Homo sapiens: one gene and its partners. The protein of the gene in region 2 interacts with the protein of the main gene of each other region in a biochemical or structural test. Each region holds a gene or a part of one and is shown on either strand. Other genes may lie near its edges.

Evidence for each region.
Region 1: of the proteins of AKT1 (region 2) and PDK1, one has a biochemical effect on the other in vitro, tested with the Homo sapiens proteins (3 studies listed by BioGRID and IntAct, with this or other methods).
Region 3: of the proteins of AKT1 (region 2) and PTPA, one has a biochemical effect on the other in vitro, tested with the Homo sapiens proteins (2 studies listed by BioGRID).
Region 4: of the proteins of AKT1 (region 2) and GAB2, one has a biochemical effect on the other in vitro, tested with the Homo sapiens proteins (2 studies listed by BioGRID).

What each region holds. Positions count from the first base shown.
Region 1 is NC_000002.12:172,566,069-172,573,092, reverse strand, and holds part of PDK1 ([Pyruvate dehydrogenase (acetyl-transferring)] kinase isozyme 1, mitochondrial isoform 2 precursor), read right to left. Parts: intron 6,238-7,024; coding exon 6,160-6,237; intron 5,894-6,159; coding exon of another isoform or gene 5,877-5,893; exon of another isoform or gene 5,071-5,876; intron 4,353-5,070; coding exon 4,276-4,352; intron 2,368-4,275; coding exon 2,269-2,367; intron 1-2,268. UniProt on the Homo sapiens protein: Kinase that plays a key role in regulation of glucose and fatty acid metabolism and homeostasis via phosphorylation of the pyruvate dehydrogenase subunits PDHA1 and PDHA2.
Region 2 is NC_000014.9:104,785,725-104,792,748, forward strand, and holds part of AKT1 (RAC-alpha serine/threonine-protein kinase), read right to left. Parts: intron 6,999-7,024; 5' UTR 6,920-6,998; coding exon 6,874-6,919; intron 1-6,873. UniProt on the Homo sapiens protein: AKT1 is one of 3 closely related serine/threonine-protein kinases (AKT1, AKT2 and AKT3) called the AKT kinase, and which regulate many processes including metabolism, proliferation, cell survival, growth and angiogenesis.
Region 3 is NC_000009.12:129,135,391-129,142,414, reverse strand, and holds part of PTPA (serine/threonine-protein phosphatase 2A activator), read right to left. Parts: intron 5,945-7,024; coding exon 5,820-5,944; intron 4,824-5,819; coding exon 4,723-4,823; intron 1-4,722. UniProt on the Homo sapiens protein: PPIases accelerate the folding of proteins. It catalyzes the cis-trans isomerization of proline imidic peptide bonds in oligopeptides. Acts as a regulatory subunit for serine/threonine-protein phosphatase 2A (PP2A).
Region 4 is NC_000011.10:78,407,818-78,414,841, forward strand, and holds part of GAB2 (GRB2-associated-binding protein 2), read right to left. Parts: intron 1-7,024. UniProt on the Homo sapiens protein: Adapter protein which acts downstream of several membrane receptors including cytokine, antigen, hormone, cell matrix and growth factor receptors to regulate multiple signaling pathways.

The DNA of each region.
Region 1 (7,024 bases), on a different chromosome or scaffold from region 2:
TGAAACACATGTTCACACAATAATTTGTACACAAACATTCATAGCCATATTATTTATAATAACCAAAAAATAGAAACAAACCAAATGTCTATCAACTGATGAATGGATAACCCAAAGGTGTTATATCCATATAACAGAATATCATTTGGTCATAAAAAGGAATGAAGTACAAATGCATACTATAACATTATACTAAGTGAAAGAAGTCAGTAACAAAAGACCACATACTGCATGATTAAATTTATATAAAATGCCCAGAAAGAGAAATACACAAACAGAAAATAGATCAGTGGTTGCCAAGGGCTAGAAGAGAGAAAAACGGGAAGTGACTTCATAGGTACTGCGTATTTTCCTTTTTTTCTTTTTTTCAGATGGAGTCTCAATCTGTCACCCAGGCTGGAGTGCAGTGGTGCAATCTTGGCTCACCGCACCCTCTGCTGCTGGGTTCAAGCGATTCTCGTGCCTCAGCCTCCTGAATAGCTGGGATTACAGGCGCCTGCCACCACACCCAGCTAATTTTTTGTATTTTTTGTAGAGATGGGGTTTCACCATGTTGGCCAGGCTGGTCTTAAACGCCTTACCTCAGGCAATCTGCCCAACTTGGCCTCCCAAAGTGCTGGGATTACAGGCATGAGCTGCTGTGCCTGACGGAGTACTTGGGTTTTTTCTTAGGACTGATGAAAATGTTCTAAAATGAGACAGCGGCAATACTTGAATAACCTTATGAATTCCACTGAATTGTACCTTTTTTAAAAAAGGAACAATGGATGCCTTCAAAATTTTGCAGGATGATTATTCTCAGCTTCGAATTTCATATACAAACTTAAATATTGGGATAATAGTATAGGGAAACTGGCCCTTGGGCTAGGGGAGGGGAGGGGAGCAGGTGCTCTATTAAAGAGAGCTAACTCCTCAACTACTATAACAGAAAGGTAATATTTACTGTTTAAAATGTAAACATTAGGCCAGGTGCAGTAGCTCATGCCTGTAATCCCAGCACTTCGGGAGGCCGAGGCAGGCGGATAACACGAGGTCGAGTTCGAGACCAGCCTGGCCAATATGGTGAAACCCTGTCTCTACTAAAATACAAAAAATTAGCTAGGCGTGGTGGCGGGTGCCTGTTATCCCAGCTACTCGGGAGGCTGAGGCAGGTGAATCACTTGAACTCAGGAGGCAGAGGTTGCAGTGGGCGAGATCACACTACCGCATTCCACCCTGGGGCAACAGAGCAAGACTCCATCTCAAAAAAAAAAAAAAAAAAAAAAAAAAGTAAAGAAAGACTAAGAATCTCTGAGTAATGAGGCCTACAAAGGGCCAGGAACTGACACATTTGAATTTTTATAGTCTCTGCATTTATTACTTTAATATAAATTTTTAAATGATTATTAAAAAAGAAAAACACTATCATACTCTTAAACTGGAGCCATGCACAGTGGCTCACACCTGTAATACTAGTGCTTTGGGAGGCCAAGGTGGGAGGATCACTTGAGGCCAGGTGTTTTGAGATCAGCCTGGGCAACAAAGTGAGACCTAGTCTCTACCCACCAAAAAATTCTTTTAATTAGCCAGGCTTGCATGCCTGCAGCCTGCAGTCCCAGTTACTCTGGAAGCCATGGGAGGAGGATTGCTTGAGCCCAGGAGTTCAAGGTCACAGTGAGTGATGATCACACCACTGCACTCCAGCCTGGGTGACAGAAAACAATTTTTAATAAAATGTAAAAGAAGAAACTGGGCCACCTGAACAATGTAATAGAAAAGGCCTAGCACTGGGGACAGAAGACTGGATATCATGTCCCATAGCATTTCTGCCCTGTGTGATCCTGAGCTAATCACTGTGTCTTAGTCTCCACACCTGTAAAAGTGAGGATAAAATTACCTACGTCATGAGAATCAAATGAAACCAGTAGATTAGAAAGCACTGTTTTAAAATTTTTTAAATTATATATAAAATACTATCTCCATAATACTGCAACTACCCAAATATTTTAGATCTTACTTATCAAAGAGATATTAATGATAAATTGTCTGTCTCCAAGATTTATTTTAACTTGAATCACCTCGACGGGGGACCTGCATAGAAAAGACTCAAGGGATAACTATAATCCACCAGCTCAATGAAGCAATGTGCTTATTATCTATTACAGACAAGATTCTTTTCCCCTGAGAGTAGATTATGTCTTTTAGAAATTATGCGTATGGTTACCTTTGCATGTCTGTTCATCAATTACAAAAAAAAAAAAAAGAAAACAAACCATTAAACACATTTACCTTCACAGTCAAATCCTCATTACCCAGCGTGACATGAACTTGAATAGGGGGGTAAACACCTCTGTTGGCATGGTGTTCCATAGTGGCTCTCATTGCATTCTGAAATACATTAGGGTTGTATTAAAAATACAGCTTTTTAGAAAAGAGAAAGTGTAATTTTCAAGTACATATGCACTATTTGAAGTTTTAAAATTTGATGGAAATATGCCAAAGAATCACAATTCTTATAACCACATTTAAAGTTTTTTTTTTAATGGAGTCAATTTGGGGGGGATTTGAAGGATATTCTGACCTAAAGACTCCAACTAAATTTTGCTTATTTTCCAAAGTCAGACTTCAAAACACTTTTAACTAGTTACATTAAAGCAGAAAACTCTGTTCAAACACTTTTATAATTTTAGTAAATGATGGGCAAAACATTTTTGAAAATGTAGTTTCAGCTATATTTTTAGAACTATTTAAAAAACTGTCATAAATTTCTTTAAAGGAAAGCAATTTTTTTCATATAGTAGTAACAGCGATGGTCGTATTTGATGGAGCAATGAATCCCTTTATCTCTAGTTTGAAATTAAGGGTATTGTCATTGTAAAGCTGCTTTGACTAATTTCTAAAGGAAATAGGGTACACAGTGCCAACATATCAGAAGCCTTAAACAATATCATGACATTCAGCATTGCAGTAGAAAATGATATAAACTAGATGTAACTAAAAAGGCATCCGAATTTGGAAGTAAGAGTGTGTGGCCCTGGCACAGCAATTGCGATTGAGTCCTCTTATGGAGGAGATTCCATCATTTCCACCAAAGGCAGGTTAAGATTAGGTTCCAGGTGAAAGCCATTATTACTGACATTATGTACAATATAATACGGAGTGCCTCAATCATAGGGCACAAGATCTTTATGCCACTGGAATTTCAAGGAAAAAATTCGTGTTAATGCTTGAAGTGCCCATCACTACTTGTTTAACTACTTGGATAAAAAGATTTTAGGGCTAGGTGCAGTGGTTTATGCCTGTAATCCCAACACTCTGGGGCAGGACTGCTTGAGGCCAGGAGTTCAAGGACAGCCTGGGTAACAGAGTGAGACCTCAACTCTACAAAAAATAAAATAAATATTTTAAAAAAGATTTTGTAAGGTATTAAATACATTTTTGCTGTCTTGGAAGAAAGAACATTCTGCTGCTGTTCTAAGATATTCGGTCAGTTTTTCTGTGTTTCAGTGCACTTTTCCTTTACATTATCAGATTGAAAGCCACCCCCTCTTTCCTCTAGTTTGCTGCTGGCTGATGAAACACAACTGAAGAGAGACTACAAGCTTCTGATAGAGGGCAATCATTTTCACCCACCAGGACCTGTGCCCCTCACTCCTCACCCATTTTCTTGTCAACCAGCAAGTATTATTGGCGGGGAAAAAAGATACTCTCAATATTAGTAGCATAATTTGTTTTCAAATTTTGTTGTAAAGAGCAAAGATTACAGCAGAAACCCTGTAAGTCAATATAAATGACCTCCCCCTCCCAAGAAAAGCCAGACCAAAAAAAGAATTCTGGTCCTTTGAGGGTAGCAAGTTGAGAATCACTCTTCTAAATATTGTTTTATAAAAACATAAAGATAACTCTATTGAGCACCTATATGTAATACGTTGCCACTGTACTGGACACTTAGTATGTTATTCCCAATAGTCATAAACAATCCTGGACAGTATTCTTGTTTTACAGAAAAGGAAACTGAGGCTCAGAGAGGTTGAGTGACTTGCCCAAGGTCACACACATATTAAGAGCCATAATTGGGATTCAAACCCAGGTCTTTCTGACTCCATAGTCTGAGCTCACCACTACATGGAGATGTCTCCCTGTGTTGATAAAAAGCTGATCTCCAGCAATGTGATATGATACTGATGTGAAATGGCACTTCTTAATAGGAGAACCTAGTGGAATATTTGGCTTTCAGAGCAGATTCCTAACCTCAGAAAAGTACTGGTAAAGGTTATGTAATACTATTTTACAAACCTTGAAAAGTTCAAACACCATGTGATAGAGATGGGATGGTACATAAACCACTTGTATTGGCTGTCCTGGTGATTTTGCTACAGAGCAGAAGAGAAAAATATGAAAGTACAGAGAGATGTGCTTAAAGCATTTTTAAGAATAAACTGTGTAGTGATGAAAAGAAAACATTAACTACGGAGGACAGTATTACCTGGGGGAGAACTGCCACACCATTTCTTCAATGTATTAGTGTTTGAACCCATACCCACAAATATTTACAACTGATGATGACAAGAGTCCTGTGGTCACTTCTCACAATCTTGCATCACAATCGAACCAACCCATGCGCCCATTTTTCTCTAGGATGGTAAAGTCTTTTTTAAGATCGCTTAACTTTCGGGTAGGAATTTTACTTTCCAAATAGAGAAGTGTTAAAATCTTTAAATTCCACAGTCCAATTCACATGCATGCATACATTCTTCTTCTTCTTTTTTTTTTTTTTTTTTTTTTTGAGACGGAGTCTTGCTCTGTTGCCCAGACTGGAGTGCAGTGGCGCGATCTTGGCTCACTGCAACCTCCACTTCCCAGGTTCAAGCAATTCTCCTGCCTCAGCCTCCCGAGTAGCTGGGATTACAGGCGCCAACCACCACGCCTGGCTGATTTTTCTTTTAGTAGAGACGGGTTTCACCATATTGGCCAGGCTTGTCTCGAACTCCTGACCTTGTGAGCCACCCGCCTCGGCCTCCCAAAGTGCTGGGATTATAGATGTGAGCCACTGCGCCCAGCCCATACATTCTTTAAGCCATTTTCAAAATGTTTCACCTGGGTGGAATATTGTTTTATTTCAGGCATTTCGATGGATATAAAGCTGAATAAAAAATATGAGCTAGCATCAATTTCTCGAGACAGTAATTAATTCTACATTTAAACACTTAATAGGAGCCCCACTGGGGGTGGTGATAGGGGTGTGTATAAAACAGACATTTAGTAGAACAAATGATTAAGACTCATGATATCTTAGAATTCTAATTCAACCAATAAATCAGACCTTCCTCTGAATAAACTCCCCCTTGGGAACAAAAATGGGACATCTGGAAATTGCTCACAGCAGTTCAGGTTTGCAAACTATCACTTACTTGTACACTGTGATTGTTATTTACCAAATGCTATGCTACCATCATGGCTCAAAAGAGTTAATATGGCTTTAGAAAATCACCAAGCAATGCTATTTTCAATTGCATAACTTCACTGCTCTCTCACTCTAAGGTCCAGAATACAGCTTAGTAAAAGCCTATTTTGTTTTATTCTTCCCACACCTTCTTAAAGTGTCATCTTAGGAAATGCTTTTTTCTGTCAAACTACCATGCTTTCAGGAAAAAGAGACTCATCAATCCCTCTTCAAGGCATCTAAACCCTTTTTGTCCAAAAGGCACTAATCAGGGTAAAAAGAAAACCATCAGAGACAAACAGATTCTCAAATAGATGAGCATCTTTCTTTCCTCTTTTATAACCCCAGTCTATGTCCTCAACAACAGAAAATTATTTACAACTCAGGAAGTAGAAAAAGGGTAAGTCTTACATTAGTGAAGTGCATGTAAAAGTCAAATGTAACTTTCTTGGTATCATTTTCTTTCTATGACTAAACAGAAAATAAAAAATAAGCAAAGAATCAAAGTTATCAATTAAAAATAAAGAAAATGTGATACAAAAAGCCAAATCTTTTCATAAAGAATCTGACTAAATTACATATGTTTATAGATATATTTTTTACATGATTACTATCCTTTAGCCTTCATATCCAACGAAGTTGATAAAAAGTCATCTTCCATTAAAACATTTAAATTCTTATCCCTTATCAAGTAATCAAAGCACTAATTATTGAGAAAAAGACAACATCAGGCTTACCATTTAGTTCTTCAAGTTCTAGTTCGGGAGAGTTAATATAATACAAATCACACAGACGCCTAGCATTTTCATAGCCATCTAGTGTGAATCAAAACAAAACAAAAAAGGATTTAATAAATATACTTCTCTTTCACGCATTAAGATGGCAATGGTATTGACAAATCAAAGTCTTGAACTCTCTACAGAAGAAAATATACTTTGATAGTTTGGTGAAAGTCTGCTTTTTTTTTTTTTTTTTTTGGTAGAGACATGGTCTCCCTATATTGCTCAGGTTTGTCTCCAACTCCCAGGCTCAAGCCATCCTCCTGCCTTGGTGCTAGGATTACAGGCATGAACCACTGCCCCCAACCAGGGAAAGCCTTTCCTTTTTTTTTTTCCTTTGAGACGGAGTCTCGATCAACCAGGCTGGAGTGCAGTGGCGCTATCTCGGCTCACTGCAGCCTCCACCTCCCTGGTTCAAGCGATTCTCCTGCCTCAGCCTCCCAAGTAGCTGGGACTACGTAGGCATGGGTCACCACGCCCAGCTAATTTTTGTATTTTCAGTACAGAGGGGGTTTCACCATGTTGGCCAGGCTGGTCTCGAACTCCTGACCTCAGGTGATCCACCCGCTTCAGCCTTCCAAAGTGCTGGGATTATAGGCATGAGCCACTGTGCCTGGCCCAGGGAAAGTCTAAGTGTGACATGACAAAGCTGAATAGCCATAAACAATGAATGACAAATATAACTACAAAAAAAATGTAAAAGTCTATATGCTAAAAAGACACCAACAATGTAAAAAAGAAAAATAACAGGCTGGAGAAAATAATTGCTATCTATGTAACAAAACTTAAGAGTTGGTTAGGAAACACTCTTATCCATTGTTTG
Region 2 (7,024 bases):
TCTTCACCTCCTTCCGCTCCACCATGGAGCAGGCCTCAGCCCGACACACACACCCCGGGAGGAACATGGTGCGGGCAGGCGGCACCACCATGACCCCGTCCACCTCGCTGAGGCACAGCCGGAGGCGCTGGGGCCTCTCTTCCTGCCACTCCAGGGAAGCACCTGGGTCTCAGCTTTCCATTCTCCTGGGGCTCTACTGGGTGGGGTACTGGGCCTCCCTGGTGCTGCCCCTGACAGACCACCTGGGCCTGGATGTCCTCCCCCACAGGCACTGCCCGTCACCCACCCCTCGGGCCGGCAAAGGCACCCCACCTGCCACACACCCATCCATCGCAGAGCCCAGCACATCCCAAGACCCTGTCCCTGTCCCTGTCCCCCACCTCATTTTTGGTCTGCCCCAAACAAGCCCCACCCATGTCATGGCCCACCCTGCCTACTCAGGACCCCTGCAGATGAGGCTGCAGCCCCTCCCTGGCGCCTCCTACTCTGCCCCCGCCCACTCTCCCCATAACTTGCAGCAGGCTTTGCCAAGTGCCCTCCACCCAGTGGGTTCCCAGGGCCCTCACCCTCGCTCCCTGCGTGGGAGGAAGCTGGGCATGGGGACAGCACACAGTGCCTGCTGCGAGGGAGGGCTGGCCACAGTGTCCCACGTGTAGACACTGCCCTCGGGAAAGGAAGTGGGCACGGGCACAGGCTCCTTCCGGGGCTCGGCCGGGGGCACGCAGCCATGCCCACAGCCCCTCCCTCCTCCCGTCTCTCTTGGGCAGGGCCCCTGGCGGTTGAAGGGCTCCAGTGCTGGCCTCTCAATCCCTGACACCCCAGGAAAAGTGCCCTGCATTGCTGGGGGAACTGGAACCAGGCAGTAGGGACCTCGTCCTCCACACCGACCATGGGAAGCACCCGCCACAGAGGGGCCTTCCATCTCCCCACCATCTTGTTTCTGCCCCAACTTGGAGCCACGCCTGGGGCAGGAGGGCCCCCAGAGCACGGCCAGCTGTGGAGGGTGCTCCTTCTGATCCCCCGGCCTGCTGGGACATTGTGGCCCTGACCCCCGTGGCCTCACCCCACACCTCACCAAGCTTGTGCAGCTCAGCGTCTCCGCGCCCTACACCTGGCTGCTGTGCCCCTGGCCCCAGTCTGTGGGGAGGCCAGCCAGACCCTGGCCAGCCGAAGGGCCTCTCTGCATTCTCCAGGCCCAGGGAGCAGCCACCTCCCCGCCAGGCCTGCCCAGGGGGTGTCTCCACCCCTGAGCTGGACAACCAGCTGAGGGCCTGGGCAGGTGGGCCCGCCAGGTTACAGGGTATGGGTGGGGTCTGCAGTCACCGGGCCCGCCTGGGGGGTGTGTGAGCCCAAACACAGCGCCCCAAGGATCCCACCCCAAAGCCCGCAACATTGGCAGCAGAGTCACCCATGAACTCCCAACCCCCTCAATTCCAACGTTTCTGAAATCCAAACCTATCATTCCTTAAGGTTCAAGGAAAACACACCTAAAGGCGGCATGGCAGGGAAGGGAACTCCCGTTGGAGATGAGGAAGTAAGGGGCCTAGGGTTCGCCTAACAGCCCCATCCTGGCCTGGAGCCCCAGGGCCCTCTGCCAACCTGCCCGGGGCCCCAGCGCTGGGCTGGGGGAACCTTCTCCTGAGGCCATGGGACTAGGCACAATGGTCCAAGCAGACAGAAGCAGCAGGCAGCTGCCCACCCAGGGTGGCCTGGGGAGCAGGCCCAGAGCCACAGCCACAGCCACCAGTCTCAGCTATGGGAGGGCCCGAGGGCAGGGTGCTGGCCCCAAGCCGGGCCGGGTGTGCCCAGGCAGAGGGGACGCCAGCGGGGGCCGCGCCAGTTCCCTCCGCTCAGCCTCGTGCAGGACTTCTAGGAACCCGGCCTGATGCAACCCGGCCAGGCTTCTCCTGAGAGTGGAAGGTGTACGGGGGTCTAGGCCCCAGCACAGGAATCATTCCACCCACATTCTGTCCACTCTCCTGGGCCTCAGTTTCCCTTCCCGGAGTCCAGCCCCCCACAGGGCATCCCTGCCCAGAGAGGGCCAGTGACCAAGAAACACACAGGAAGAAGAGCTGTCCACTCAGGAGCCACCAGGCGTGGGGGCTAAGGTCCAGGGCTGGGGCCAGCAGTGACCCCTCACCCCCACTCAAGGCCACCTCGGCTTCCTCTTTTGTTGTTTTTGAAGTGAGAACTCAACAAGCTCCCAAAACAGGAACCTCCCTGATGCTGGCGGCCTCCACCACAGCCATGCCATGACCTCCACCAGCCTGTGCCTCCTGCCCCTCTCCCGGGTAGGCCCAGGGCTGTTGGGACCCCCACTCTCTGCCCAGCCCTCCCACCAGGAGCCAGCACACTTGCCTCCCCATCTCTGTCCCTGGCCTGCCCACGGGGGCCGTTCCAGACCCTCAACGCTCCCCCAGGGGAGGCAGAGCTTGGCACTAACCAGCCCAGGGCCCGCGGGTCTCACACTGAAGCCACCTAGACGCAGCCTGGGGTTGACCCTCACCTGACAGCCTGGGAAAAACTGAGGCCCAGGAGGCACAGGCAGCCCTGGCCTGGAGCCCAAAGGTTCCCACAGGCTGAGGGGAGAGTCTGCGGGCTCCCTCCCTCAGGGTCCTGCTGGGCCCCTCATCCTGGCGGGGTAATGAGCAGCCTCCATCTGCACACAAACAATTAGCCCTGCGGGGCCCTCCGCAGCAGCTGCTCTCTGGAGTGGGCTCAGAGTCCCCCACAGACCTCTTCTCAAGGGTGTTTACTCAGCAAAGCCAAGGCCTCCTCCAGGATGAAGGGGAGTGGCCTGTACCCTCTGAGGTCCCCCACCTCACGCAGGGACCCCAGGACCAGCTGGATGGCTGAGCAGCAGCTGGGGATGCAGTGAGGTTCTATGTCGCTCACCAAAGCGAAGTAACACACTGGGGTAGGAACCACTCTCTCCCTGCCTCAGTGCCCCCCCGCAGGGACAGCCAGTGCCAGGACTTCAAGGCGGGGAGAGGGGGTGGGAAGGAGGCCCAGCCTAGGCACCTGCTTGGGGTCAGAGACCAGCCTCCATACTCCCCACCGGGACGCCTGGGGCTAACTCAGCAGGAGTGGTGAGGGGGCTGCCCTGAGGCCTGGACTGGGGGGTCTATGCCAGGCATGGGCCCGGGGTAGGGCATGGCAAGGACTCAGATGTCCGGAGACTGGACCCTCCGTGAGCCGCATGGACACACGGTCCCGTGTCACCCGGGCCCGGCCAGGCACCCAGATCCGTGGCTTGGACACGCTGCCCACACACTCAGGAGCGTCTGCCGCGTAACCCACGCGCCCCAGGCAGCTTCCCTCGACCCCCGCCCACTCGGCCTTGGCCTGCTGGGTCACAGCCTGCCGAAGGCAGCCAGGCCTGCAGCTCTTCCCCGGCCCCTCTCGGACAGCGACCAGCCTGAGGGAGTCCAGGTGGTGCCCCTGCGGCCGGCACCCACTCCTGGCCTAGGCCCAGCCCTTTCTCGAGAGCCCAGAGCACCTCATCCTGGGTCCCAGCATCCCGGCCACCCGCCTCGGCCCTCTCCTGACCCACTTGGTCCAGCCATGTGGACGGGGGGACGCTCAGGAAGACAGCCGCGAGTGGACAAAAACAGGCTCCAGGCCGGGGCTGCACCAGGGCAGCTCTCCACGGGGCTAGGCTGCAGCCAGGCTGGTGCACGGCCCCAGGAGTACTGGGGCAAGCGGGCAAGGTGAGCAAGCTGTTTGGGGAAAGTACCTCAAAAGAGCCACACAGCCTCTGGCCAAAGCCTGGCACGGAGCTATCAAAGGAAGGAAAACTGCAGGCTGGAGGCCGAGTTCAGCCAGACCTGCGCCCTGGCCCAGGATTGATTTTTTAAAATTGTCAGCCTTCAAAAATCAGGAGACTTCACACAACAGAACAAATCTTTGAAAATGCAAACGTCTGAGCAACACTGAGCCCACCAGACCACCAATGGCCAGAGCTGAGCTGGGCTGCTTATCCAGTGAGACAGCCGAAACAGGAGGGGACATCTGGCCCCCTGTCCCTATAGGCCCCACCAGCCTCCTCACTAGCTCCTGCCCTTAACAGCCTAAGCTCACCCTCCAGGAACCATCTCCCTGTTAGATGTGCAGACCCAGAGGCCTCGCCTGGGTCCAGCCACAGGTCCACACAGGCCTGCAGCCGGAACTCCTGTGTCCCCATGCCCGGTCCCTTCTGTCCCTGAAGCTCCTCTGACTCAGAGCACACACATCAGAACAACAGAAAGCAGCCTGGGCCACTTCCCAGAGATGACGCTCACCTCCCAAGGAGCAGGAGAAGGAGCCTGCAGACACTGCCACCCCACCCCTCACACACAGGGCATACCCGTCCCCTCTCATCTCAATGACCACATCACCCCTGAAGGCACCATCACGCCACGTGTGGCCAGCCCAAGTAGCCGTGGTGGGACTGTCACCTGGGGATTCAGCTGAGAACCAAAGTGCCCCAGGCCACGGTCGTGGGGAGTCCCGGCAAAGGGGACAGGTGCGGGCCAGCCTCTGAGACAAGCACCCTGACCTGCAGGAGCAAGGCTGGGGGGGAGTGGAACAGGGCGTCTGCAAGGGGCTGCGGCCGGGCCTGGAGGACAGTCACTGCGTCCCTCCCTCCCTCCCCACCCCCAGCCAGGCCTGAGCACTGTGAAGCACGGGTGGGGTCAGCCCAGCACAGCCCTGCTAGGGACAGGAAGGCAGCTAGTACCTCTAACCAGTGTTGCGGGTGGGGCTGGCCCTGCCAGGAGGGTGGCACAGCACATCTGCAAGACACACAGGGGACCCCAGGGACGGGAGTGGCGAAATGCGGCAGGCCCCGGAGGACAGGCTTTCCTCCGCAAGGAGCGGCCGGCCATGCGGGTGGACGCCACCTGCTCTCGGCAACAAGAGGGGCTATGCCTGCCAAGGGCATATGTCATATCCACGCCACCTCCCATCCTCAGCGCCCACTACACTGGGGATGGAGGAGGAAGAGCCGGGGGTAGAGGTACAGGACCCTCTCTCCTGGCCTGAGGCTAGGGGCCAGATGACAGAGCCCAGAGGCTGCTGAGGCTGGCCGGACCCCAACTCAGGGCCGCCCACAAGCCATTCTCCACTCCACCAGGTCTCTCTCCCACCACCGCTCCCTGGTGTAGATGGGGAAACTGAGGCCCAAGGAGCTCAATGACCTTGCTCTTGGAAAGGGTCATGGCGATAGAGTGGCTAACCAGGGTTCAAACTCAGCTCTCTGGACGCCCCACTGGGCCTGATGTCCTGTCCCTGCCAGGCCCCTCCTGAAGGCACGACATCAGCAGCAGCCTGAAAATCACCTGGCCTCGGGGGAGCACTCCTGCCTAGGCCCAGCTGGCTGATGGGTGCCCCAGTAACTGGGGCCTGGGCCCCTGGGCAGTCAAGGCCCTGGCATCTCCTGGGTCAGCCCGAGATCCAACAGTCTATCAACAAACACACATTTGCCAAGGATAAAGAAGCAGCGGCCCCAGGCAGCAGACTATGTGACACAGAGAGGAACAGGGCCAGGGTCGGGGCAGGGGGTCCCTGACACCAAAGAGGGCTGTGAGGTGAGGAGAGGACCTCCAGGCACAGGTGGCAGGACTCCTGGGGAACAAGCAGGGGACAGCACACGGGGAGGGGATGGAGAAGGCAGGATGCGGCAGGAGGCCTTGGGGGGAAGCAGAGCCAGAAGCTCCCCAAGGACCACAGGCGTCTGCAGCCTCCTTGTCTTCATCTCGAGGCCCCGCGTGCCATCACTGGTAGCTGCCCACTCAAACACTCCAAACACACAGCCAGCCACACCCCTGATTCCCCCAGCATCTCATCTCGGTCACTCCTTCACCCCACCCCCAGGCTCCTGTGGCTCCTTAGGCCTGCTCTTCTGTGAGCTCCTATACATCCCACAATGCCCCATCTTGTGACACCTACTTTTGCCACACCTCCCTGTCTGCTCCAGCTGTGTTTGGGGTCTCCCCACTACCAGATGTGAAACCCATCTGCTAGAGGGTGTACGTAAAGCCGGGGGGCTGCTGGCATGAGATCACTAGAACTTAGGAGGGAACAAGTCTGGAAAAAGAAGTCAGGAGAGGGCGGACCGATTCCGCCTGGGGCAGAAGAGAGTGACTTGGCCAGAGGACCTGGACCTGAACAGGAAGCCCACCCTAGCAGGACAGAGGAGCAAAACAGCCACCCAGACTCCACCGCACCCCGCTGAGCAACGGAGGGTGGGTGAGGCAGAAGGGCCTGCACAGGGTTGGAAGGGGTGGGGCTATGTCCCCAGCTCCCATCCCACCCAGCTGCTGGCCAGGCCCCTCGGGCAGCACCTCCTCCATAGGCTGCAAGGCCAAATGAGTGAGGAGGGGGACACAGGGGCTGGGGGACTTGGCTCAGCCAGCTCTGCAGCTCCAAGGCAAACATGCCCTGTGCCCAGGCGGTACGGATTCCCCCCACCCCCAAAGCTCAGGCCTGAAGCAGGCACCAGGCCAAGCCAAGCAGCCCTGCCCTGCCCTCAGGAGCCCTTGGGCAGTGCCCTGGGCCGCCAGCGTGCCAGACCCTGGAACAGCCCAGTGTCCTCGCTGCCTTCCAGGAAAGCCAGGAGAGAGGCTGGCAGCAGCTCCCCCGCCTGCCAGGGCCCACACCAGGAAGCCACTCAGATGGCCGGCCCTGCACAGGGCCTCATCCTCCTGGCCTCCCCGAGGCCGTGCCCTCCATGCCATGGGAAGACATGGGGCCCAGGACACTCACCCTAGGCCAGCCCAGGAGCCCCAGGGGAGGCAGCCCCTCCCACCCAGCAGGGCACAGGCACTCACAGACCCTGGGGCTACTACCCCCATCTCTCCCTCCCCAGGCCCAGCCCTGGCAGCGGGTACTAACCTCGTTTGTGCAGCCAACCCTCCTTCACAATAGCCACGTCGCTCATGGTGCCCGAGGCTCCCGCGACGCTCACGCGCTCCTCTCAGGCTGGCGCTCCCCGAGCCCAGCTGGCCTGGCCACAGCCTCTGGGAGAAGCAAAGGAAGCTGAATG
Region 3 (7,024 bases), on a different chromosome or scaffold from region 2:
CAGGTTCTGGCTGGGAGCTCATCCCTCCTCCCCTGCAGCAAAGTCACACCCATGCATGCACACACACACACACACAAACGCACACGCACACAATGCACGCGCAGACACTTGGGGACCAAGCTATAGCATCTGCCTGAGGGGCAAACATACAAACAGGCACATGCAAGTGCCAGAGACAAGGTTCCCCTTTGGCCCTCAAGGCCTGCTAGGAAAATATAACATTCCTTGCCCACCTACCCGCAGTCACCCCTCTTTCTCCCACAGCCAAAAAAAGGGGGCCTGATTCCTATCGCCCACCAAATCCAGCAGCCTCAGGAAGATAAGATCTCCACCTGAGCTTCTGGTGTCGTTCCCACCGACTCCCCAGGAGCCTCAGAGCGCCTCTCCAGCACAGGGATTCACTTGGGTTCAGATAAATAGCAGCAGCAGCTAGGCCCCACCCCTCCAGGCCCACCCCCTCTCCCCCAGGCCCCCCCACAGGACACGTGGTCTGCACCTGCCACCAGCAGAGCTAGAAGAGATGAGGAAAGGGTCAATTTGCAAGAGGACCAAGGTGGGTATGACCAAACCCAGGTATCCGACAGCCCTCTGCCTGCCATGCAGGCAGGGAAGAGAGGGCCGATGGGAGGCAGGGGTGCCTGAAGCAGCAGCCAGCCTGGCCTGGCCAGGAGGTGGGGAAGGGGTGGCCGCCACAGCAGCTGAAAGAGGCAGGCACAAGGACGGCTCCATTCCTGGTCCTCCCTCTTGCCAAAGAGTCTGACCCTCCAGGACGGAAGAGAAAGATTCTGCAGCCAGCATGAAGTTCCCATGACGTCAGAAACCACAGAGGGACGCCTGTGTGCCTGAGCATATCCCCCTGACACCGCAAGTCCAGCACATTTGTATTTATTAACCAAGCAGTTCATAATTCCCCTCGACACAGCCCCCCAGCTCATAGGCAGCATTTACAGGGGAACAGGGCTCTGTACCCCAGACCCATGCTGCAGAAGGAAGACTCTGCAAAGAGGCTGAATCTGGCAAAGAAACAGAGACTTGGAAGGTTCTAGAAACATGCGGGTGTCAGGGGAGACTGGGTTATTTTTTGAAGGAGAAAAGATAAGCCAGAAACGCTCTCCAAAAAGGGGCATCAGTTCACCACAAGAGCCCTCAGGAGCCCCCACTCTTGAGCCATGGGCTGCCACCTGGTGACCCACTCCTGGCAGGCCTCTTACTTCTCTAGTAAGGGCAACTGTGACAAAACTTTTAAGATTTAAGTCAAAAAAAACCTGTCATTTTATCCCCCTCATTTCCCTCCCCTGGCCCAGGTTCCCAAAAAGCCCATCCAAACACCCATGTTCAGGAGCAAGGACAACAGGCTCCTCCCTCCCCTCCTCTTCTCTCCCAGGCTCCACCACAGCCAGGCAAGAGCCCGAGGCACCCAACAGAGACAAAGCCCACTCTGGTCCCTGGGGGCCTTGTCTTGGACCACTCGCTTCACTCAGAATCACCCCAGGCTCTCTCCTCCAGGAGGGCAGCCAGGCACCCCGAGCCTACAGGGGCCTCACCTCTGGGGAGCTTTGTTTCAACTGCCCTGCTCAACCACACTCCACCCCCAGCCCCTCCCCCACCTCCCCACCCTACCCCACCCCTTCCCCAGTCTGCAGGCTCCAGCCCTGTGCACACTTCCAGGCCCAGGAAAGCTCAGGGAGCATGGAGCTGTGTAACCAGTTTCACTCTCTGGACAGGGCCCTCTGAGCAAGCAACCAGGAGGCACCCTGTCGGCTTTGTCGGCTTTGTCTGCCAGGGGCCTGCCCGGCAAGGGCTCCGAGGCAAAGGCAGGCAGATGGGCACTGGAAGACAAGAGCCCCTGCCTCCTGGCCAGCCTCGCCTACCAGGGCCAAAGAACAGATCCTCAAAAGGCCTCTGGCAGAGCCAGGGCTAGGCCCATGTCCTGGAGCTCCAGTGGCCCTGGGCCCCTACACACAGAAAGGCCAGAGAGGTAGTTTCTTTGGAGGGGCTGCAGGCTGCCCCCAGGCCTTCAGTACCCCAGGGTCTCCCTAAGTCCTTCAGGGAGGTTACAGTCCTTTGCCTGTAACTCTGGCAAAGGAAAACAGACGAGTGGGAGAAAAAGGAATCGGGGCTGGAAGACAAAGAAAAAATTAGCTCATTCTAGCCACAAAGGGAGAAGAGAAAGAACCAGAATGAGCGAGCGAGCTGCAGCCCGCAGTGACCCCAGGGGAATCGTGTGAGTCAGAGCAGCCATATTGAGCAGGAAATTACTCACAGACGCTGCGTTCCTGCCTCTCCACTCCCCAGAGAATCGGCCTTTTGTAAATGGCTCCTCTGTCAGTAACTGGGGGGATGGGCGGGGGTGGGGAGGCTCTGCACAGCGCCTTCCTGTCAGCTCCTTCCCTTCCAGCTGAAATCTGATCCCTCCCTTCCCAAAACTCCAAATTTAGAAGCCAGATTGAAACTGAAATTCTTTTCCTGCCTGCCCTGGGCTCTTAAAGGCGCCAGGGCTGCATTTACAGAGGCTGTAGAGGCCCTGCAAGGTGGGGTCCCTCACCTAGGATGCCCACGGGTATCAGGGCAGTCTTGGCATGAGACCCTGAAAGGGCTGCCTGATTCCACTCCCAAGTTCTCGGTGTTTTAGTTAATCTCCCAGTTAAAAGAGCACCATGGTGAATCCAGGGTCTCCAGAGGAAACACTGCCTCCTTCCCAAGCAAGGCGTACAGAACTCCATGCAAGCCTCCAGGTCCCCAGTGAGCTAGGCCAGGCCACTCACCAACTAGGGACTGCAAAATGCTGCTCACTGCTCCGAGGTGGAAGAGGGTGGGCGCTCTGGAGAACCAACACAACGTGTGCTGCAACCAGCGGCCACGTGGCAAGATGGGCCCTTGCTGCAGCCACCCCGGCTCCTGGGCACACTCCTCCTAGGGTCTACTGTTGAACACCATGCCCAAGAGCCTAGACCCAAAGTGAAAACCCGGACCTGTGGAGAAGGTGCGGAACAGCCAACAACTCTAGGCACGCCCTCCCCTCCCTGTTCCTTCTGCTGCCTCAAATAAATGTCACCAAACCCTCTCCAAGTTCAGTGTGCCTCTCCTGCCACCTAGTGGCTACTTTGAGATTTCCTCTACTGGAGGAACTGGGTCCCAAACTTTGGAAAAGCTTTTGGGGTGTTTATACCAACAAAATCAACCAACCAACTAAAGACAAAATTTTACCATGGAATCAATTCCCAAAATCCTGGAGGCCAGGCCTGGCATGCCTCCTAGTTAGAATACCGACAGGGACCCAGAGGCCTGGCCAGCCGCCGGGGGAGCCCAAACAGCTCAGCCTTTCAGCCACACCCAAGAACTCAGTGTGGCATCTGCACCCTTCTTCCCACCCTGCTCCTCCAGCTTATCCTGAGGTCCCCCAGGGCTCCGCAGACCCCCACATTCCACTCCACAGAGAGCAGCGCGTGACTGGCTTTCAAGGCAGTGAGCCAGGCTGCCCCCAAGTCCTCCCGACCTTGGGCCTGCCACACTGCTGAGGGCAGCAGATCTCCGGGAATGAAGTGGTGGCCGCCCAGCCGTCAGTCCCGGCTCCATTTGCTGACTTGGAAAAAATGTGTCATTCCCCTCTGGCCTCTGGAGTTTGGCAGAAGCCTGAGCCGAATGTTGACCAGGAAGAGCCTGGAGCCAAGGCTGCTGGTTATAACCCAGCTTTCTCCACCTCGTCGGGGGCTCAGAATACACAGCCCGGACGGAGAGCAGCCCCCGTGGCCAGCATCCACAGGCCTGCTAGGAACCTCACTGAGGCAGCAGACATCCGTGCTGGTGTCGGGAAAGGGACTGAGGAGGGATAGAACTCTCAAACCCTCTCCAGATAGCTGAGCGAGGGCGCCCTTTGGAAACTGGGGCATGGGGATGGCAGAGAGGATGAGAAGTCCTAACACCTCCCTCAAGAGAGGTCCAGAGAGCAGAGGGTCCCCAGCTTTCCTGTGCAGTCGCCTGGCACGTGTGTTTAGATGCAGGTTCCTGGCTCTTGTCCCCTAAGATTCTGATGCAATAAGCTGGGATGGAGGGCCCAGGAATGTGCGTTTTAACAAACACACTAGGAGATCTCGCACAAGTGGTCCAGGGCCCACTGCAAGGAATCCTGCCTTGGTGAGACAATAACTTCCAGTTCCAGAACCCAGCCGTGGGGCTGGCTATCCAGTGACTGCCACCACAGGCCAGGCCTGCGCACTCCCACTCCAGCACTTTGCTCGGGCCCACGTCCTCAGGCACTGACAGAGACGTGTCCCTTCGACAGAAAAGCTGTCTGCACCAGAAGTTCGCTCCATCTCCTCTGGTGGTTTCATTTTACACATCCACAGCACATGGTTCTACAGACCCTTGTGGGGCCCCACCGAAAGATGCTGACCCTCCCCCACAAACCTCCGCCCGCCCCGACCCTTTCAGACCTGCTGCAGCAGTCACCAAGGCCAGTTAGTGACCAAGTCTTAGACCCTCATCTCAAGACTCCTGTGGTGTTCAGGAGAAACTGAAGGAGAACTGGGCGGAGGACCTGACAGTCAGCAGCGGCTCTTTCGGAAGAGGCCCAGTGGTGCTTCCTTTTCAATAACCCGCTCCGGCCGGCCCTGCCATTTTGGGCAGCAGCTCTGGCTCTTCTGATCCACTGTAAGGCCACCAGCCTTGGTTCATCTGAGCCTGGAGGCAGCCATGGGCTTCTCTCTCACCCCTCCTCCTCACCTCGGTAATAAACAGGATACACTCCAGGAACATGTAGTCCTTGTGGTTCTCATTCACGGCCTTCTCATCCACAAAGTGTCTGGGCTCCAGGTATGGGTGGTCTGGGAAAAGGAATGGGCCCCAGCATTCAGAACCAGGCCCCACGACTACCTGGGCAACCCGGCCCAGCAGTCACACCCCCCCAGGGGCCTCAGTCCTGCCCGTGGTGCCCTCAACACCTCACCTTGAAGGAGCAATAAGTAACTCTGGGTTTGTGTATTCTAATGTGCTAAGCTCTAGCTGCATGGCGTTGGACGCATGACTTCAGCCTGCCAAGGTTCAGTTTCCTCACCTGGACACTGGGGACAAGAAGAGCACCTCCTCCTAGGGGCCATGACAACAATTACCACACCTACAGCACTCAGTATGGTGCCTGGTGCAGGTGCCAGTCAGCAGAGCCGGCTTCATGCTGGCAGACCCTTCGCAGTGTCACTGAGAAGATTCGGGGAGGCAATGCACCCGAGGCCACAACTAATGGTCATTTATGAATATCAGTCTGTAGGCAGTTCATTCTTCATCAAAATAGAGATGATCACCTACGCCCATCCTGAAAACTAGCTTCAAGAGTTGGGGAGTCACCAGAGCAGGCCTCTCTGAGCCCCACAGGAAGCAGGCCCACCACCCAGCACTTGGCGGCTGCTCCCTAACGGGCCCCTTTGCACACAGCTCGATAATAACAGTGGATGACACTGGTCACCAAATCAAAAGGGTCCCTCATTTTCAACATAAAACCCCACAGCTGCTGCCAGGAGCTGGGGCGCATTTCACACCAGTCCATTATGCACCAGGCGTGCGCCCTTGCTCCAGCCCATGTCACTTCCCATTATCTTGGTGGCGCTTGGCCTCCGCCTCCTCCAGCCCACCACACGGGCTCTCACAGCAGAAGGTCGACAGTAAACAGCCTCCCTCAATAGCTGGTCTAATGCCCTGCTTTCCAAGCTGTCACTGTCTGCCCTGGGCAGGAAGAAGGGAAGGAGGGAGCGCAGGAGGGGCAGGGGAGGGCCACAGAACGCAGCCTTGGTTGGGGGTGGAGGGATAGGCACCTCCCGCTCTAGTACCTATCAGCTGCGAACTGCCCCAGATGAAGGGCAGAAACTGGAAGTCATCCAGACCCCACACTCCCTGGCTGCCGGCTGGCTCCATCCTGTATGTTTTCTGGAGTTTCCGCATAACCTCAAGGTACCTGCACAGGAGGACAGGGAAAGGGAAGGTAGCAAAAAGTAAAAAGACAGTCTCACCCTTTCGGCCACTGGGAGCACAAGGAGACCCCAAAATAACCACTGAAGAGTGTTAACTGGTCTCAATTTCAATAATGTAGCTTTATTTCCCCCAACAAACACTCAGCCATCTTTTGGCTCAGGAAAGGCATAAAAATCACTGATTAAGGGCCCGGGCACGGTGGCTCACGCCTGTAATCCCAGCACTTTGGGAGGCCGAGGCAGGCGGATCACAAGGTCAGGAGATCGAGACCATCCTGGCCAACACGGTGAAACCCCGTCTCTACTAAAAATCCAAAAAATCAGCCAGGTGTGGTGGTGGGCGCCTGTGGTCCCAGCTACTCTGGAGGCTGAGGCAGGAGAATGGCATGAACCCAGGAGGCAGAGCTTGCAGTGAGCCGAGATCTCTCCACTGCACTCCAGCCTGGGCGACAGAGCAAGACCCTGTCTCAAAAAAAATAAACAAATAAATAAATAAAAAATCACTGATTAGGAAGGTGGGTTTTGGTGCCATCAACTCCTGACAACTTGTAAAACCCTGGGCAGGGCCTCAGCCTCTCCAGCCTCAGTTGGCCTGTCTGAAAGCTAACACAAGTCCCAGCAGGTTATCTCCTAGGTTCTTCTGGTTCCAACCTTCTATATTATCAGAGGCTGCATATCAACCACCTGTGAAGCATCGAGCACTGCTCCTGGGCTCCGTCACAGGCCTGCTGCAGCAGCACTGCTAGACTGGGGCCCGCAATGGGGATTTTAAGAGCTCTGGGTAACTGATCCACATCAGTGCTGCCCAGCGACTGGCTTGGGTGGTGTGGGGCAGCAGGTCAGAGTCTGACTACCTGGGTTCAGCTGGCGTGAACCCAGTGAAGACACCGGATATCTCTGTGCCTCAGTTTCCTCATATGTAAAATGGAAATAACAGTTGCTATTTCATAGGGTTGTTGTTAGAATTAATGAGTTATACATAAAGTGCTTAGAATTCTTCCTCCATATGGTCAACACTGTGTCAATACTGGCAGACATTATGTGACAATTCTTTTTTTTTTTAA
Region 4 (7,024 bases), on a different chromosome or scaffold from region 2:
CCTCCTGAGGGAAAGCAATTGGAAAGACCATGGATTTTTCATTAGAAACCATGCAGGCCAGAAGGAAAGGATGCAGTATTTTACAGGTGCTCAAAGAAAAGAAGTGTCAACTAAATAATTCAATATCCAGTGAAAATATCAGAATGAAGGGGAAAATGAGACCTTCTCAGGTGAAGGAAAATAAAGACAATTTATCACTGGCCAATCTACCCTAAAGAATGGCTAAAGGAAGTTCTCTAAACAGAAAGGAAATGAAAAAAAGAGGAACCTGAAAACATCAGCAAAGAAGAAAGCACATAGTAAACAAAAATGTAATTAAATAGTCTTTCCTTCTGAGTTTTCTAAATTAGGTTTAATGACTGAAGCAAAAATTATAGCACTGTCTGATATAAAAAAAATATTTAAGACAATTATATATGGAGGATGGCAAAAGGACATAAAGGGAGGTAAGGTTACTATACTTTACTTAAACTTGTAAAATGATGATACAGACTTCATTTAGATTATAAGACGACACCAACTGACTGTTGTATGTACAGTATAATACCTAGAGCAACCACTAAAAAAGCTGTATAGAGAGATACACTCAAAAACACTATATAGATAAATCAAAATGGAATTCTAAAAAATATTCAAGAAACTCACAGGAAGGCAAGAAGAAAACAAAAACAGAACACAAACAAAAAATAAAGTGGCAGAACTAAGCTCTAGCATATTAGAAATTATATTAAGTGTAAATTTAAATATACCAATTAAGACATAAATCAGCACAGTGGATTAAAAACATGCCCCATGATATGGTTTGGGTATGTGTCCCTGCCCAAATCTGAGGTCAAATTGTCATCCCCAAATATTGGAGGTGGGGCCTGATGGGAAATGATTGGATTATGGAGGTGGAGTTCCCCTTTGGTGCTGTTCTCATGATAGTGAGTGAGTTATTGTGAGATCTGGTTATTTAGAAGTGTGTAGTACCTCTCCCCTCACTCTCTTCCTCCTGCTCCAGCCATGTAAGATGTGCCTGCTTCTCCCTCACCTTCCGCCATGACTGTAAGTTTCCTGAGGCCTCCCCAGCCATGCTTCCTGTACAGCTTGTGGAACTGTGGGCCAATTAAACCTCTTTTCTTGATAAATTACCCAGTCTCAGGTAGTTCTTTACAGCAGTGCGAGAACGGATTAATACACCCCAACAATATGCCACCTATAAGATATCACTTCAAATACAATGATATGGGTAGGTTGAAAGTAAATTGATGGAAAAGATGTATCATGTGAATATCAATAAAAGGAAAGCAAGAATAACTATATCATCAGATATAGGCTATAATATATCAAGTAGCCCTCAGATACTTGTATAATATATCAGATAACAAGTAGACCTCAGAGCAAAAGAAATTACCAGAGACTCAGCAGGTATTATATAAAGATAAAAGGGTCATGCCACCAAGAAGATGTTGCAATTCTAAATGTGTATATATTGAACAACAGGGCTGGGTGCGGTGGCTCATGTCTGTAATCCCAGCACTTTGGGAGGCCGAGGCAGGCGGATGACCTGAGGTCAGGAGTTCGAGACCAGTCTGGCCAACATGGAGAAACCCTGTCTCTATTAAAAATACAAAATTAGCCGGGTGTGGTGGCGCATGCCTGTAATCCCAACTACTTGGGAGGCTGAGGCAGGAGAATTGCTTGCACCCAGGAGGTGGAGGTTGCGGAGAGCTGAGATCATGCTATTGCACCTCCAGCCTGGGCAACAACAGCGGAACTCCATCTCCAAAAAAATAATAAAAAAAATAAAATATGTGAAACAAAAACAGATATAAGTGAAATGAGAAACAGAAATATTCACAATTATAGTTGGAAACTTCAACCCCTGTCTCTCAACAATCGACAGAAGAACTAGATAGAAAAATCAGCAAGGATATAAAAGAATTATATATATCACTATCAATCAAAAAGATATAATTGACATTTATGGAATACTTTACCCAATAATAGCAGAATAAACATTCTTTTCAAAGTACCCATGGAACCTAAAGCAAGATAGACCACATTTTCAGCAATAAAATAAACCTTGACAAGTTAAAAATAATTGAAATCAAATAGAACTTACTCTACTCCCACAATGAATTCCAACTAAAAGACAGAAACAGAAAAATAATGGGAAAATCTCCAAACATTTGGAAACTAAACAATGTACTTGTAAATAATCCATGGTCAAAGAGGAAAGTCTCAAGGAAAGTAAAAAAAATATATATATACTGAGCAAATAAAAATTGAAAATGCAATTTATCAAAATTAGTGGGACACAGCTAAAGCAGTGCTGAGAGGGAAATTCATAGCAGTAAATGAATACATTAAATAAGAGGAAAAGTCTCAAATGAATAAACTACTATATAAAAAAATCAGAGGCCAGGTGCAGCGGCTCATGCCTGTAATTGCAGCACTTTGGGAGGCCAAAGCAGGCAGATCACTTAAGGTCAGGAGTTTGAGACCAGCCTGGCCAATATGGTGAAACCCTGTCTCTACTAAAAATACAAAAATCAGCTGGGCATTGTGGCACATGCCTGCAATCCCAGCTGCTCGGGAGGCTGAGGCAGGAGAACTGCTGGAACCTGGGAGGTGGAGGTTGTAGTGAGCTGAGATCGTGCCATTGCACTCCACCCCAGGTGACAGAGTGACATGCTGTCTCAAAAAACAAACAAAAAATAATAATGAAGCAATGTCAGTATGCAAGAATAAGGGTTAAAAAAATAAAGCAGTGGACCCACTACAGACCCTGCAGACACTGAAAGCATAATACAGGATACTGTAACTCCACTCACATGTATGTAACAACTTAGACAAAATGGACCAATTTGTTGAAAAATGTAAACTTCTATAATTCAGCCAATATGAAGTAGATAATTTGAAGAACCCCGTATCTATTAAAGAAATTGGATTAAAAATGTAAAAAATTCCTAACAAAGACATTTCCAGATCCAGATGGTTTAATCTGGAGAATTCTACCAAAGGTTTAAAGAATTATACCAGTTCTACACCATCTCTTCCAGAAGGCTAGACATGGTGGTTCACACCTATAATCGCAGCACTCTGGGAAGCCAAGGTGGGAGGACTGCTTAAGCTCCGGAGTGTGAGACCAGCCTGGGCAACGCAGGGAGACCCTGTCTCTACAAATAATAAAAAAAAAAATTAGCCAGGCACAGCAGTACGCAGCTGTCGTCCCAATTACTTGGGAGGCTGAGACAGTAGGATCACCTGAGCCCAGGAATTTGAGGCTGCAGTGAGCCATGATTGTGCCACTGTCGCCAGCCTGTGTGACACAGCAAGATTCTGGTGGGGGTGGTTGGGGGGGGGGATGGTGGAAGGAGAAGAAAATAAACGAAGGAAGAAAGACATATATAAATAAATGTAAAATAAATTCATGGACTGGAAGATTTAATATAGTAAAGCTGTAATTTCTTCCCAAATTGGTACACAGGATTAATGCACTTCCTATTAAAATCTCAGCAAGACTTTCTTTTTTTTGCATAAACAAGATTATTCTAAAATTTGTATTGAAAGGTAAAGATAATAGAATAGCTAAAACACTTTGAAAAATAAGAATAAAGTAGAGGAATCAGGCTACCAGATTTCAAGACTTACAATATAGCTAGAGTTGGCAAGATTCTATGGTATTTGCAGAGGGACAGACACATGGAAAAATGGACCAAAACAGAGACAACAGAAACAGACCCACACAAATACGTCCAACTGATTTTTGACAAAGACGGAAAAGCAATTCAATGGAAGTAGGATGGCTTTGTCAACAACAATGACAACAACAAAAGAACCTCAATCTAAGTCTCACATCTTACATGAAAATTAACTCACAGTGGATCACGGACTTAAAGGAAAAACATAAACCTGTAAAATGTGTAGAAAAAAAAAAACCAGGAAAGCCGGCGCAGTGGCTCACGCCTGTAATCCCAGCACTTTGGGAGGCCAAGGTGGGCGGATCACGAGGTCAAGAGATTGAGACCATCCTGGCCAACATGGTGAAACCCTGTCTCTACTAAAAATACAAAAATGAGCTGGGCATGGTGGCGCACACCTGTAGTCCCAGCTACTCAGGAGGCTGAGGCAGGAGAATCGCTTGAACCTGGGAGGCAGAGGTTGCAGTGAGCCAAGACTGTGCCACCGCACTCCAGCCTGGGTGACAGAGTGAGAATCTGTCTAAAAACAACAACAACAACAACAACAACAACAAAGAGAATCACTTGAACCTGGGGAGCCGAGATCATGCCATTGCACTCCAGCCTGGGTAACAAGAGCAAAACTCCATCTCAAAAAAAAAAAACCTATATATAAAATACTCAAATTCTTGAAGACATTTGACCAAAGAGGATATACAGATGGCAAATAATCATATGAAAAGATGTTCAACATCATTAGCCATAAGGGAAATGTAAATGAGAACTAACGGGTGAATGGTTAAATAAACAGACTGTGTGGTACATCCATACCATGAAATACTACTTAGCAATAAAAAACAATAACTATTGATGCATGAAATGAGGATGAATCTCCAGAGAATTATGCTGAATAAAAAAAAGTTCAAAATCTTAAGTACTGCATGAATCCATTTAAATAACACACATGAAATATCAGAGAACAGATTAGTAGTTGTCACAGATTAAGGATGTGGTAGGGGTGGGATGGTAGTGAATACGATTATAAAAGGGCAACATAAAAAATCCTATCATGATGGAAATGCTCTGTATCTTGACTGTATCATTGTCAATATACTGTTGTGATACTGTACTATAATTTTGCAAGATGTTACCATTAAGGAAAACTGGATAATGGCTACATAAATCTTTGTTTACTATTTCTTACAACTAGATGTGCATGTAGAATTACCTCAAAATGAAATGTTTAATTTTTTTAAAAAGCCCAGGCTTTAGGACAAAGCTAGATGACTTTGGGTAAGTTGCTTCCCTTATTATAGGGCTAAATTACTACATTAAAAGATCAATGGTCTAAGCATAGTGCCTGGTACAAAGTAAGTGCTCAACAGATGGCTACTAAAATAATCCTAAAAGTCATGGCAGTGGGGATGAAGAAGCGTATAACAAGATATTTAGATGATACCACTAATGGGTTTTGGTGACAGATTAGATGTGGGATAGTGGGTGACGGGGAGTCAAAGATGATGCCCAAGTTTCTCATCTGAGCAAGTAGGTGCTTAGTGGCACTGTTTACTGAGCAGATGTGGAGTGAAGAGATGAACAAAGAAGAGTTTAGTTTTGGAAGTGGTGAGTTTGTGTTGACTGGGAAACATTCAAATAGAGATGCCCAGTTAACAGTTGGATATGTAAGTCTGAAGTTCAGAACACAACTCTGAGATGGAAATTTAACTTGATGACCACCATGCAAATGATAACTGAAGCCAGTAGAATGGACAAGGTTGCCAAAGGGGAGAAACCACACAGCCACTATGACTATAAAGGAGCTTCAACCTTTAAGGACTGGATAAAAGGGTCAGTCTAGCAAAGGAAATATAGAGTAGCCAGAAAAGGAGAAATAACAGGCATTTATAGTGTCAGCCAAGATAAGAGGAAGGTGTTTTAAAAAAGAGTGGTCAACTATGACCAAGCAGTGAAGAGATTAATTAAAATGAGGAGTAAAAAATCATCCTCTGAGTTTAGTGACCTGGGTATCGCTGGTGCCTTTGTCAGAATAGCTTTGGTGAATAACAAAGTAGGTTTCCACTGGAGCCGACTGAGAAGAAGGTGGGAGAAAGGAAGACTGCATAAACCACCACCAAGTTTATCCCTGAAAAAAAGTAGGTAGTACAGAGAGGGAAAGAAGTTGAAGATGTGTTACAGGATAAGAATTATTTGAGTAGGGAGGAGAAGATATGATTCAAAGTATAAGTAGCAGGATTAGCTCAGATAGAAGTGGCACTTCATCTACTCTAAGAAAAGGAAACAAGAAAGGAACCATGCAGGCTGGGCGCGGTGGCTCATGTCTGTCTGTAATCCCAGCACTGTGGGAGGCCGAGGCGGGTGGATCACCTGAGGTCAGGAGTTCAAGACCAGCCTCACCAACGTGGTCAAGCCTCATCTCTACTAAAAATACAAAATTAGCCAGGTGTGGTGATGCATGCCTGTAATCCCAGCTACTTGGGAGGCTGAGGCAGGAGAATCGCTTGAACCCAGGAGGCAAAGGTTGCAGTGAGCCCAGATCGTGCATTGCACTCCAGCCTAGGCAACAAAAGTGAAACTCTGTCTCAAAAAAAAAAAAAAAAAAAAGGAAGAAAGAAAGGAACTATGCAGATACAAGTAAATTTGAAAATGTGGCCATTCATCGTACGTACAGACAACTACTCCCTCATCATTTCAATTTTCCTTTGAAGGAGAAGGCAAAGCCATTGCTAAGACTGAAAGACTGGATTAATTTTTTTTTCTGTTTACTGGATTTTTATTCCAAGCACCTGATCCAGTGCCTGGGACATAGATTTAATAAGTATATTTAATAAATATAATGGAAATAAACAATTACTGTTACCTTAATGCAGTAGTTCTTTACAATTTGTGCACAACTTTCTTCAAGTTAGCCACTAGGGGGTAGTCTGCCAATCTTATTCCCTCAATCTTTTAATCCAGTGAAATTGATAGAAAACTACAATGCAGTGTAGGTCATATTAATAAAATGTTTTTCCTCAAGAAAATTCTGTTTAATAATTATATACATGTACGTGTGTATGCATTTGCATGCACGCGCATACACACACAAATACACTGAGGCACGATGGGAGGGTTGTTACTTCTGCCGGCCTCCCACTGCAGCCATATCAGGATGCCCCAGAGGCAATAGTCAGCATTTTCCAGAGACACTTTTTGCAATTTCTCCAGGGCACTCAGTAAATAGCAGATAGGTCTCTTATACTTATACTTAATTAACTAGAAAAGGCTGATGAAAAAAATCCCTGAAAACTAATTGCTCAAACATTTGCCTTTGCTTCTTCTAAGATGTTTTTCCCCTC